2 linked regions of the Homo sapiens genome follow. The protein of the gene in region 1 interacts with the protein of each later gene in a pairwise test. Each region holds a gene or a part of one and is shown in the gene's direction. Other genes may lie near its edges.

Region 1 (3,500 bases):
TTTTAGCCAGTGTAAAAGTGTAATAAGAACTTTTAACAAGTATTAATTCTGTCTCTAGCGTATGTGCATCTTGCATCTTCCTGATGCATAACAAGTCTTCCTTGTAACAGTGGAAGAAAGCAGGAGAAAGTAGACCTCTCTTCCTCCAATCTAAAAAAATGGAGTCTAAATTACCAATCCTGACATGATTCTTCCTCCAGTTTATTTCACAAAATAACTGCTTCCAAAATACTTAACACTTTTAACTTCAATAGAATATTATAGCCTTAGTACCCCATCCCTTCTATATGCCATTTGCTAGTCTTAATTATATTCTCCTCATACTTCTTTCATGACAGTTCTCTCCCATATTAATTATGAGTCAGAGAGAAGAAATGAGGTGGAAGGCCCTGAGATCACATTCTCACTGCCATAGACGTATTTTTCTAATTCTTTTCCTGTTTGACTGTGAAACCCTCTGGCACATTGTATTTTGATTCTTTTCATGTTGCATTTTTTATAAGTGTTTTTCGTGTTCATTAACATCAACTAGATATATAATTTAAGGTCAATAGATTTTTTTTTACTGTTTATACCAAAACGTTACATAATGAAATGCATAAGTTTATAAATTGAAATTTGTTATATAAAATAAGTAATTTATTGCTTTGTAGAGCCTTAAAAGGAGAAACATTTATCTCTTTTTGTGGATGGTGTACAGAAGCCTGAAAAACAAAATAATAGAAAAGTCCAGTACTTTATGATTAAAATGTATATACGTTAAAACATATAGGTAGAGGTCAGTATATGGTTTGGCCACAGCTTAGGAACTATGTTCTACAGGTGCATTTAAACACTGGTTATTAAAACCTTAAATATATTTCGCCACATAAGCATTATTTTCAGTGTCTACTGTGTATTCTCTCATACGGCTTTGGTATAATTAACTTGTCCCTGGTTTTTGAACATTCAAATTCTTGCTAATTTGCTTTTTAAATTATGTTTTATTGTTATAATAAATGAATATCTTTCTGTATAAAGCTTGGTCTGAATTTCCCCTTTCTTCCTTTCGTACGCAGAATGGGTCTTGCTACCCAGTGGTATTCTTTTGAAAATTAAATGACCTAATATTCTTAAAGTGCTTATTAGCACAATATGTGGCACATTGTGAGTACAGAATAAATGCTATTTGCAGAACTTTTTCTGGCTTAGCAATGAGACAAATAAATACAAAGGTTTCAAATGAGTTATTTGAAGCAAGCATTGGGGTAGTAACATAGCACATGATGGCAAATAGAGGAGGGAAATCTGAAAGATTGAAGCTCTAAGAGAAGGAGTTTCGGTGGTTATTCATCTGTATTGGTTGTTCCCAGTTGTGTATTCTTTAAGTATACTTTAGGAATACCTTAGCTGGAAAATGTCACAATGTAAGTTTTGTTTCTTTGAATTAAAATGTGTAAGTTTGATAAAGTACTATACAGTTGAGAAATGTTACAAACCTCTTTAAAACAGTGTGACCTTTGTGTGTGTAATTTTTGTTTATTGTATTTGTATTTCATATTTTTTGTGATATTTTATTCAAGTGTGTGTCCAATGATGTCTTTTCTGTTTTCTTTATTATTTTTTTTAATTATCCTAGTCACGTGAACTGGAAATTTCAGTTTATTGGCGTGATTGGCGGTCTCTGTGTGCTGTAAAATTTCTGAGGTTAGAAGATTTTTTAGACAACCAACGGCATGGCATGTGTCTCTATTTGGAACCACAGGGTACTTTATTTGCAGAGGTAATAAATGTATTTTATTAAATGTGCATAACTACAATTGAAATTACATATGTAGGCAGCATAATATAGAAGTAGAAAGAGTGTTAGGCTGAAAGACAGATGACTTGAGTTCTTGGCTGAGCTATGCCACTGAATAGGTATGTGACTTTGAGACAAATCAATTATTCTTCCTATGTCTGTTTTCTCATGTAGAAAATGAGGGGCTGGACTAAACTGTAACTAAGATTCTCTTAAGCTTTAAAATTTTATAAATTTAGTAGATTTCATGAACCATGCTATTTTCATGTCAACTTGAATTTTCTTCACTGCAGGTTACCTTTTTTAATCCAGTTATTGAAAGAAGACCAAAACTTCAAAGACAAAAGAAAATTTTTTCAAAGCAACAAGGTAATTACTAACAATCAAATGCATAGCATTTTGATATTTTCTTAAACAATCTAATTACCATTTAAAAAGTAATAGCCATCTGTGTGGGTTTTTTTGTTGTTGTTTATTCATTTATTTCTAACTTCTTATTAAGGAATATTTTAAATGTATCCATAAGTGGAGAGACTAGTGAAATGTACAGTCACCCGGCTTCAACAATAATCAACTCATGGCCAATTTTATTTTATCCATATGCCATCCTCTCACTACTTTCTCAAATTTGAAGCAAACCCAGACATCATATTGATGTATTCATAATTATTATAATTTATATCTAAAAGATAAGATTTATTTTTAAAACCTTACTACTAGACTTAAAGAGAAAAAAACAATTTCTTACCTATTTATTTTTAAAACTACGTATGCTATTTTGCATTAGCCTTTACTAGCAAATAGTAAAAAACTAGTTTTTTTAAGTGACAAATTTTGTTTGTTCTTCGTAGATTATAAACTAATGGATAAGAATTTTTAAATTATGACTTTTGGTTATACATAAAGAAATTACTTGCTGTTTTTGTTTTTTTCAACATCTACAGGCAAAACATTTCTCAGAGCTCCTCAAATGAATATTAATATTGCCACTTGGGGAAGGCTAGTAAGAAGAGCTATTCCTACAGTAAATCATTCTGGCACCTTCAGCCCTCAAGCTCCTGTGCCTACTACAGTGCCAGTGGTTGATGTACGCATCCCTCAACTAGCACCTCCAGCTAGGTATGTGTCTGAGATTTTAAGCATCTCTTATACAAAGTTATTGGGACATTCTTACGTACTGATTATAGCAGGTGTACTGAGTCTTGCTTTTTTCCCAAGTAGTATTTTGAAAGTAGTGTTCTGTTTACTTAAAAAGTAAATTGTTTGCTTTAATTTTAAAGCTGTTTAAAATACAGACTTTCTATTACTGTTTTGGTGAGTTACTTTATCTTCTATAAGTGATTCTACAGTAACCAAATTGGACTTTGATCTTGAGCCTGAACCTCCTCCAGCCCCACCACGAGCTTCTTCTCTTGGAGAAATAGATGAATCTTCTGAATTAAGAGTTTTGGATATACCAGGACAGGCAAGCCATTTTAAACCTTGCATAATTCCTCTTCACTGAATGAATTAGCAATAAAAGCATCATAGTGAATAAGGCGTGTCTTTCCATTTAAAATTGCCACTGAACTGTGAATTTATGGTTTTTTGTTTGTTTTTTGTTTTTGTTTTTGTTTTTTGAGACAGAGTTTCACTCTTGTTACCCAGGCTGGAGTGCAATGGCATGATCTCGGCTCACTGCAACCTCCGCCTCCCGGATTCAAGCGATTCTCCTGCAAGC
Region 2 (3,500 bases), on another chromosome or scaffold:
CCGGCCTGTACAGGGCATCCCAGCTCTCTCATTCTGCCAACCGGCAGTGCGAGGGTCCTTGTTCTTATCTTCCTGATACAGAAACAGGCCCAGGCAGGTGATGACTTCAGAGATGGTTCCTTGAGCTTTCTAGAAACATGCAGGATCCTTAGTAACCTTTAACTGGGGAAACCCAAATCTCCAGGGCCGTTTCTCACCCGCATCACCATTGACAGTTGGGGCTGTGCACTGTAGAATGTGGAATAGTGTCCCTGGCTGTCACCCATGAGATGCCAGTAGTATTCCATCCCCTCCAAGGGGTAACAACTGAAAATGACTCCAGCCATGGCCACGTGTCCCCTGGGGGCAGAATCACCTCCCCCGCCAGGTGAAATGTGATGCTCATTAGTAAAACCTGGTTCCCCTCTAGGGCCCATCATTGCCTTGGTGGGTCCTTGGTGTTTGTGGAGCCCCTGAGGAACTGCCACTAAGAGTGGGAACAGGGGCAGAGACCAGGAACTGAATCCTGCCATCCAGTCAGTTCTTAATCAGGAGGGAGCGGGTCTTGATAAAAAGGAGGAACCGTTAGGAACGGACTGTGGGAGGGTAGGCAACGTGCCCGAGGGTGGACAGCGGGTGCCCTTGTCTTTTCTTTGTCTTGTGACTGACCTGGATTTCTGGAGGAACTGTCCTCGTCTTAGAATGATCTGTTGCTTTTCTTCTGAGATTAGAGGTATTAGATTCTCTCCCAAGAGCTACTTTGGAGGTTGCCCCGGATAAACGTCGCTTTTGTAAGCTGCATTATCTCTTCCATGGGCCCTTTCGCCCGCCCGTTCCCAAGCACATACTGCTGAATTTTTGTTCTTGGTCCATCTTGCTGTCCCCTTCCCTGCTTGGCCCCCTCCTTGACCGTGACTTTGCTGCTTTACCTTGATTGGAGGAGACGCTCTGGGGCCACGGGACTGACGGTCCCTTCTGGGTGCTGCCCCCACACCCCACCCACCAGCCCTTTGTGTGCCCGGCATCCCCAGCCCAGCTGTGCCAGGCTGCCCCTGCTCGGCCGGCCATTCAGACGGCCCCAGGCGGCCTCTCGGCAAAGCAAGACAAGCCCTTCTCTTCTGCCCTCGTGGTCCCTGGAGTGGCAGAACAAAGGGCTCTGTCTCCACACCAGCCCACCGCCGCAGCCCAGAGCCCCGTTCCCTTTCAATTTCTATCGTGGCTGGGAAAGAGCCTCAGAGATTAGGCATGTTTCAGAAATGCAGCTGACGAGTTTGGGTTCTACTCATTTCCTCAGCGAGACTTTCTGAGCCCGAGCCCGATGATAAATAAAGTAGTGATTCAAGGGTTCAGCCCATGGGTTCGTCGGAGTGATGAATAAGATATCCTTGTCTGACTCACTTGTTTAAAACCCATCTCTGCCCTGCTGCACAGGGCTGTATGTGCAAGAGAAGGAGCCCCGCTAGGGGTGTTTCATGACTGTTGTTGCTGGGTGCCTGAGTTTGCTAGGGCTGCTGTAACAGAACCGCACGCTGGGTGGCCAGAACGACAGAAGTATATTGGCTTGCAGTTCTAGAGGCCAGACGTTTAAGATCACATTCAAGATCAAGGTGTTGGCAGGGTTCGTGCCTTCGGAGGGCTGTGAGAATCTGTTCCACGCCTCTCTCTGTTGGCTCATACATAGCCGTCTTCCCCTGGGTCTTCACATCGTCCTCCCTCTGTGCCTGTCTCTGTGTCCAAATTTCCTCTTATGAGGACAGCAGTCATATGGAAGGGGGCCCACCCTAATGACATCATTTTAACTGAATCATCCCCATAAAGACCCTGTCTCTAGGCGAGGCTTGGTGGCACACGCCTGTAATCTCAGCCCTTTGGGAGGCTGAGGCAGGAGGATCACTTGAGGCCAGGAGTTTAAGACCAGCCTGGACAACATAGCAAGATCCCATCTCTACAAAAAAATACTAAAATTAGCTAGACATGATGGTGAATGCCTGTGGTCCCAGCACTTTAAGAAGCTGAGACAGACAGATCGCTTGAGCCTGGGAGTTTGAGGCTACAGTGAGCTATGATCATGGCACTGCATTCCAGCCTGGGTGACAGAACGACACCCCCATCTCTTAAAAAAAAAAAAAATCCCAAATATACTCATACTCTGAAGTTCTGAGGTTTAGGATTTCAATATGTGAATATTTCTTTGTGGAGGGGAGTGGTGGACACAGCTCAGCCCATAATACTGAGAAAAGGACAAATTCAAATTACATTTTTATTTATTTGTTTATTTATTTTGGGGGCGGGGGCAGAGTCTCACTCTGTCACCCAGGCTGGGGTGCAGTGACGCGATCTCAGCTCACTGCAACCTCTGTCTCCCAGGTTCAAGTGATTCTCCTGCCTCAGCCTCCCGAGTAGCTGGGACTACAGGCGTGCGCCACCACGCCCAGCTACTTTTTGTATTTTTAGTAGAGATGGGCTTTCATTGTGTTGACCAGGCTGGTCTTAAACTCCTGACATCAGGTGATCAGCCCGCTCGGACTCCCAAAGTGCTGGGATAACAGATGTGAGCCACCGTGCCCGGCCTCAACTTACATTTTTAGATAATATAGGAACCTGGAGGGAAATGATCGTGTCAATAGAGAATAGGTCCATTTTGTCTCTTCTCACTCCTTTAAATAAACACTTTAAGGGTGAGCAGGTTGGTTGGCCACATCAATTTTGGACGCTCCCTGTTTTCCAGATCTCACACTCATACATTCAGGGGTGACTAAAGAGAGGTGAGAGGCCTGGTGCAGTGGCTTACGCCTGTAATCCCAGCACTTTGGGAGGCCGAGGTGGGAGGATCACCTAAGGTCAGGAGTTTGAGACCAGCCTGGCCAACATGATGAAACCCAGTCTCTACTAAAAATACAAAAATTAGCTGGGTGTAGTGGCACACACCTGTAATCCCAGCTGCTTGGGTGGCTGAGGCAGAAGAATTGCTTGAACCCAGGAGGCAGAGGTTGCAGTGAGCCGTGATCTTGTGCCACTGCACTCCAGCCTGGGCAAGAGAGTAAGATCCCATCTCAAAAAAAAAAAAAAAAAAAAGAGGCGAGGACCCAGCCCAGGGCGGAGTGGGTCCCATGGGATTTTACAGGGGATGTGTTGAGGGCCAGGTCCACAAGGCTGCGTGTGCCTGGTGGGGAAGCAGGATGAAGTTTACAAACAGGGCATGGGGCGGGGGTATATCTCTGTTCTCAGTATTGCCAGGGTCAGGGGCAAGGAATATCCAAAAGTAACTACACTCTTGGACCCAAGTGACCTTAGGACCAACTGCTGTCACAAGTGATTGAACAAAAGAAGTTTCTGGAAGGTCTTAAAATCCTTCAGCAAAAAGGAAGTATTGGCTGGGAGCCAGGCTCAGAGCTGGCCCTTGGGGAGACTGAGGAGAACAGAAATAGCCCTCGCCTCTGTTCAGATGTTCAGCCAGGAGTCACGAGCATGGAAGTCAAATTAACAGCCCAGTGGGGTCTGTGAAGGTGCCGGCAGCAGGC

What was found. Proteins that work in one complex are often made in the same cells at the same time.
Region 2: the proteins of PKN2 (region 1) and MYO9B interact in a two-hybrid assay, tested with the Homo sapiens proteins (one large-scale study listed by BioGRID and IntAct).

Annotation. Positions count from the first base shown.
Region 1 is NC_000001.11:88,802,773-88,806,272, forward strand, and holds part of PKN2 (serine/threonine-protein kinase N2), read left to right. Parts: exon of another isoform or gene 1-1,019; intron 1,020-1,618; coding exon 1,619-1,762; intron 1,763-2,073; coding exon 2,074-2,149; intron 2,150-2,724; coding exon 2,725-2,899; intron 2,900-3,118; coding exon 3,119-3,245; intron 3,246-3,500. UniProt on the Homo sapiens protein: PKC-related serine/threonine-protein kinase and Rho/Rac effector protein that participates in specific signal transduction responses in the cell.
Region 2 is NC_000019.10:17,078,777-17,082,276, forward strand, and holds part of MYO9B (unconventional myosin-IXb), read left to right. Parts: intron 1-3,500. UniProt on the Homo sapiens protein: Myosins are actin-based motor molecules with ATPase activity. Unconventional myosins serve in intracellular movements. Binds actin with high affinity both in the absence and presence of ATP and its mechanochemical activity is inhibited by calcium ions.